2 separate regions of the Homo sapiens genome follow, and region 1 is linked to region 2. Evidence: fine-mapped QTL for protein levels in blood plasma. A gene starts in region 2. The other region holds a variant in brackets. All regions are shown on one strand. Distances are from middle to middle.

Region 1 (2,930 bases), 32 kb before region 2:
GTGCTGGGATTACAGGTGTGAGCCACTGCACCCAGCCGACTTTTATTTTAAATTAAGGGTATATGTGCAGGTTTGTTACATAGGTAAAGTTGTATCATAGCAGTTTGTTGTACAGATTATTTCATCACCCAGGTATTAGGCCTAGTATCCATCAGTTATTTTTCCTGATCCTCTCCCTCCTGCATCCTCCACCCTCTGATAAGTTCCAGTGTGTGTTGTTCCCCTGTATGTGTCCATGAGTTCTCATCATTTAGCTCCCACTTATAAGTGAGAATATGTGGTGTTTGGTTTTCTGTTTCTGTGTTAGTTTCCTAATGATAATGGCCTCCAGCTCTATCCATGTTCCTGCATAGGACATGATCTCATTCTTTTTTATGGCTGCATAATATTCTATGGTGTATATGTACCACATTTTCTTTTTTCCAGTCTATCATTGATGGGCATTTAGGTTGATTCCATGTCTTTGCTATTGTGAATAGTGCTGCAATTAACATATATGTGCACGTGTCTTTATGATAGAACAACTCATATTCCTTTGGGTATATACCCAGTAATGGGATTGCTGAGTTGAATGGTATTTATGACTTTAGGTCTTTGAGGAATTGCCACACTGTCATCTACAATGGCTGAACTAATTTACACTCTCACCAACAGTGTATAAGCATTCCTTTTCTCCACAACCTTGCCAACATCTGTTATTTTTTGACTTTTTAATAACAGCTATTCTGACTGGTGTGAGACGGTCTCTCATTGTGGTTTTGATTTGCATTTCTCTAATGATCCGTGATGTTGAACTTTTTTGGTATGATTGTTGGTTGCATGAATGTCTTCTTTTGAAAAGTGTCTGTTCATATCCTTTTCCCACTTTTTAATGAGGTTTTATTTTTTCTTGTAAATTTAAGTTTCCTGTAGATGCTAGATATTAGACCTTTGTCAGATGCATAGTTTGCAAAAATTGTCACCCATTATGTAGGTTGTCTGTTTAATTGTTGATAATTTCTTATGCTGTACAGAAACTCTTTAGTTTAATCAGATCCCATTTGTTAATTTATGTTTTTGTTGCAATTGCTTTTGGCATCTTCATTATGAAATCTTTGCCCATGCCTATGCCCTAAATGGTATTTCCTAAGTTGTCTTCCAGAGTTTTTATAGTTTTGGGTTTTACATTTAAGTGTTTAATCCATCTTGAGTTAATTTTTATATATGGTCTAATGAAGGGGTCCAGTTTTAATCTTCTACATGTGGTTAGTCAGTTACCCCAGCACCATTTATTGAATAGGGAGTCCTTTCCCCATTGCTTGTTTTTGTCAGATTTCTCAGAGATCAGATAGTTGTAGGTGTGCTGTCTTAATTCTGGGTTCTCTATTCTGTTCCACTGGTCTGTTTATCTGTTTTTGTACTTACCAGTATCATGCTGTTTTGGTT[A/T]CTAAGCCCTGTAGTAATTTTTCAACTAGATTAAGCATTTTTTCAACTAGATTAAGATATCCATAATAATATTAGTATATAGACCCACATTTGAACAAAGTACTTAATGAATTCTGCTGAAACTTTAGATTAAATGTGGGCAATAACATATAGATTTATAAAACAGAATCAATTTTGATTTATATTTATAAACTATCAAAAAGAAACAAATTTAGTGTAGCAAATTTAAAAATTATATTTTACTGTTTTACATATAATATCATGGTTTAAAAATGATGAAATCACTTTAAATTGGAGGAATTTCTCATAGATTAATGCCAAAGTTTTCTTTTATTTTTTTCCCAGGCTGGCCTCAAACTACTGAGTTCAAGCAATCCTCCTATCTCAGCCTCCTAAGTAGCTTGGATTCCAAGTGCACACCACCATGCCCAGCTTCAAGATTTTTTTTTGCCCTTTCCATTTGTCATATGTTAATCAATATGTTGCTTTCCTCCTTGTCATTATTCCTTGTTAACTGACAGTGATCTCATGATCACCTTGAAATGTTTTTTAATATCCCCCAAGCATTTAAATAATTATTTACTATGTCCTCACAGGTTAGATCATTCTTTTTCTCCTTCAGATAATTGTGCCAGGCTGTAGAGTTTAAAGATCCATCTCCGTGAAATAAAGTAATAAAAAATAAAAGTTAAATAATCATCTGTCTCTCTGGCATCTATACTATACTATTTCATCCTTTCCTCATCTTCTTGTTTTTGACACTTTTGGTGGACCTTTGCTCTTATTTTCACAAACTTTTTTAAATTCTGGGATTTAGCATATTGTTTCACTTACTTCCCAGGAATCTCAGGTGGTATTGTGGCTTTAGGTGCCGTCTATACAAAGATGATTTTCAAATCTTTATCTCCATTTTAGACTAAATCCCTCCTTATATATTCAACTGTCTTCTCTATGCCTACACTTTCAACATGTCCAAACTGAACACCTGATTTAGTTCTAGCAACCATATAACATACTCTAGTTATCTATTTATTTTCTTTCTCTCTTTCCCTTTCTTCCTTCCTTCTTCCCCATCCCTCCCTCCCTCCCTCCTCCTCCTCCTATTCCTCCTGTTCCTCCTCTTCCTCCTTCTCCTTCCTTCCCACCTCCCTCCTTCCCTCCATCTTTCTCTTTCTTTCTTTTTCTTTCTTTCTTTTTCTTTCTTTCTTTCTTTCTTTCTTTCTTTCTTTCTTTCTTTCTTTCTTTCTTTCTTCTTTCTTTCTTTTCTTTCTTTCTTCTCTCTCTTTCTGTCTCTTTCTCTTTCTTTTTCTTTTTTCTCTTTCTTTTTCTCTTTCTTTTTCTTTCTTTTTTCTTCCTTCTTTTTCCTTCCTTCCTCCCTCCCTTCCCTCATTCCTGCCCTCTCTCCTTCTCTTCCTCCTTTCCCTCCTTCCCTCCATCCCTTCCTCCCTTCCTCCCTTCTTTTCTTCCTGTTTCAAGTTGAGGTTACCAGGCACAGTGGCTCACAC
Region 2 (2,930 bases):
TCTGCTAGTTTGTTGAGCTCATAAGAGCTTTCTATAAACATATGCTGTTTGATTGAATTGCTAATTACTAAGTGTTTAAGAGACATGTGTTTCCTTCCAGGTGTTATAGGAAAATACAATCAGTATAATCTAATTCGAGATTCACATGTTCAAGGCCTGGTTCTATTAGACACCTTCTGGCTGACTTTAGGAAAATGCTCTAACATCTGGGCTGTTGTATCCTCATCAGCTCATTGAAAGCCATACACAGGAGCCTGAAGAGTTTTGTATAGCTCAATCACCCAGTGTATGCATCTGATGAGCCAGAATTCTATAATAGGCCATGATGCCATACTCTCCTCTTTGCTGCTCTTCTCTCTCATAACCTCAACCATCTAACCTATACTCATCTTCATTGAGTCAATGAAAGCAATGTCACTGTTGGTGAGAGTATATTCAAGGAAAAATATTTTTTTCTATTCCATATAATTACATTTTATTCCTTTAAACCCATATTGATATATAGTTGAAAAGTTGGCTACCATTTTTTTTCTTTGCTACTTACTAATGGTGAAGTACTGTGCTCTTTCTTGCAGGTGTTTTAAGATCAGGATGACATGGTTTTCCTAGAGTGTCTTTAGGAGGGCCATGGTGTATAATTTTATAACCCTAGAACAAGGAAACAAAATATTTAAAATAAAGATGTGAAGAATACCCTTATAGATGGTATCTATAATCTTTGTCACAAACTTAAATTTTGACTCAATTGTTTAGTATTGTTTCTAATAATTTACTGTATTTATTTGATTTCAGCGTTAAGACCATATTGTCCTTCTGAGGTCAGATTGTATTTCAACGCCCTGATATTTCCTTCAAACACTAACAAAAAAGTGGACTTCTTGAAGTTCAGTAACTACTAGTTGGCTAACTTGCTTGGAAAATTGCAACCTTTTTTCAAGACTCCCAACCCCTTATCTAGGACTTCAACCCATTCTTTAAAAGATCATTTCCATAAGCAGTGTCCCACATGGTAAGTATTAACTACGTGGATTTGGGGGTAACAGCTTTGTCTCTTCATTTTTTTTTTAAATTCTGGAAGCCAATAGATGATATAAAGTCCAGCAGAGTCAATGACCCCAACTCTAATTGTTATTACAGTTTCTAATAACTGTACATTCAAAACATCAATTAGAAACTAAGAGTCTTAATTTGACTTCGTAAAAAGCAGATTGAGAAATGACTTCAGGCTTCTACTATGATTCAATGGGTCTTATGTACTTAGAATGATTTCTCTTTTAAGGTAGGTAAAGAGTTTCAATAGACTAAACATAGAGAAGCATGTTGAAAGTTATGGTAGGTCGGCGCTAAGCAACAAAATTGAACTCTCAGTCTGCCCGGCATTAGCTATGTGCCCTCCAGATGCCGGAAGAGGAGCGAAGGAGGATCAGAAACCCCCTCACCTCAACGATGGTTCTCTCCCCTGTGCTTCACCCCACCTCCCCGTCCCTAGCCATTTCTAGTCTCCAATCCGGGTCTTACATTTACCCTGGCTCCAGAGCACAGACCTTCCTGCAGTTGGGCCGGCGCGTTGCGGCGTTGAGGAGCTGCGGCGCGCCCCTCTCACCGCGATTGTTCACTTGCCAGGCGCCACGTGTGGGCGACGTCACTGGGCTTTATGCTTTCATCGCCGCTATCTGCCTACGTGAGCTGCTCTCCTCCCATCGCCCCCGCCTCCCCTACTACGGAGAAAATCTTGCACGTTTTCCCTTGTGAAAAGCAGAGTTCTCTTTTTCTCATTACCACCAGTTGATGAGGAAAGAAAATGTCTGTTCGCATACCTGCGCCGTACTAGGAGGAGGAGGGAGGTCATATAAGGATTCGGGTTGCCCAGGGGGTGGCTTGAAAAAGGAGGCGTTCGCATTCAAACAAGAATGCCTGAATTAATGTAGTTCAATTTAAAGAGCTAATTAGGAGTCCACAGGTGCTTAAGTTTGCAGTGCGCTGCCAGTGTCATGCCAACGACGCACTCCAGTTACACAGGTTGTCAGTTTCAGGCTCCCTCATAAACACTTCATGTTCTTGTCCCTCTTCCCCGTTGGCAACAGTTTTATGGTGAGAAAATTCACGAAGAGTAACAGGAACAACTCTTATGAAAATACGCAGAACTCCTGACCCAAGGCTACTGGCTGCAAGTTTAGCATACGTATCAAGCATGGGTTAAAGACATGTTTTCTCTCTCAGAAGGCGGATGAGTAATAGGTGCATTTTCTTCTATTCACAGTTGTTTTCAAAGCGAAAAGGAGTGAATTCGCTTATGACCTAGAGGAAGAGAGATGGGTCAAAAGATGTCAAGCCAAGGATTAATATCCGTCATACCTTGGTTCTCTGTAAGCCATGCAATAAGAGGCTTGAGATTTCACCAACTCTGGAGACTCACTTGGGCACAACTGAAACTATAACAAACTTGGTGCTCAGTGCCATTTTCCTTTGGCAGTGTTACAAGGTAATTTCAAGGGATCAGCACACAGACATTGTTTTAGTTTTCTTTTGCTGCTTATTTCAGTTCATGCAGCACTGACTAAAAATTTTGGAATTTAGACTGCTTAACGCTTATATCTACATCCAATATCAAAATTCATTACTGACAGTTTGCCTTTCTAAATATTTATGAAATCTAGTCCTCAATCTGTCCCTCACTTCTATATTCATGTTTTCACCATATCTTGCTTAAGTTATTAATTGGACATTTCAAATACCTATATGCACAAAATCTCTGCCTACCTATTTGTTCTTTCTTTCTAGTGCCGAACAATTCATTCTCAGCACTATAATAGTCTATCATTTACTGTGAATATCTTATTTTTCATTTTTGGAGAAGAGTCATTCCTGTAATTATTACTTGTTCCCATATTCACATTGATGATATCAGAATGAGAGCAACTTGAGCGCTG

Direction of the effects. Positions count from the first base shown, and alleles are read on the strand shown. Strength reflects both the effect of a copy and how common the allele is.
As copies of A replace T in region 1, the plasma level of the protein whose gene starts at base 1,587 in region 2 goes up (strong association).

What was found. PIP is the posterior inclusion probability: the model's chance that the variant is causal. The UK Biobank Pharma Proteomics Project read protein levels with antibody pairs (Olink). The fine-mapping took linkage between variants from a reference panel, not from the people measured, so its PIPs are less certain.
Region 1: its variant is fine-mapped to the plasma level of the CRISP2 protein (UK Biobank, PIP above 0.99).

The regions. Positions count from the first base shown.
Region 1 is chr6:49,679,969-49,682,898 of GRCh38, forward strand. It overlaps a transcript of CRISP2 not described here. Among named protein-coding and RNA genes, the nearest start is that of CRISP2, 32 kb to the right of the region's middle. The variant A/T (reference allele first, on the strand shown) is at 1,426.
Region 2 is chr6:49,711,957-49,714,886 of GRCh38, forward strand. It overlaps CRISP2 (cysteine rich secretory protein 2), which reads right to left and starts at 1,587. Exons shown (of 10, transcript NM_003296.4): 1 at 1,519-1,587; 2 at 545-648.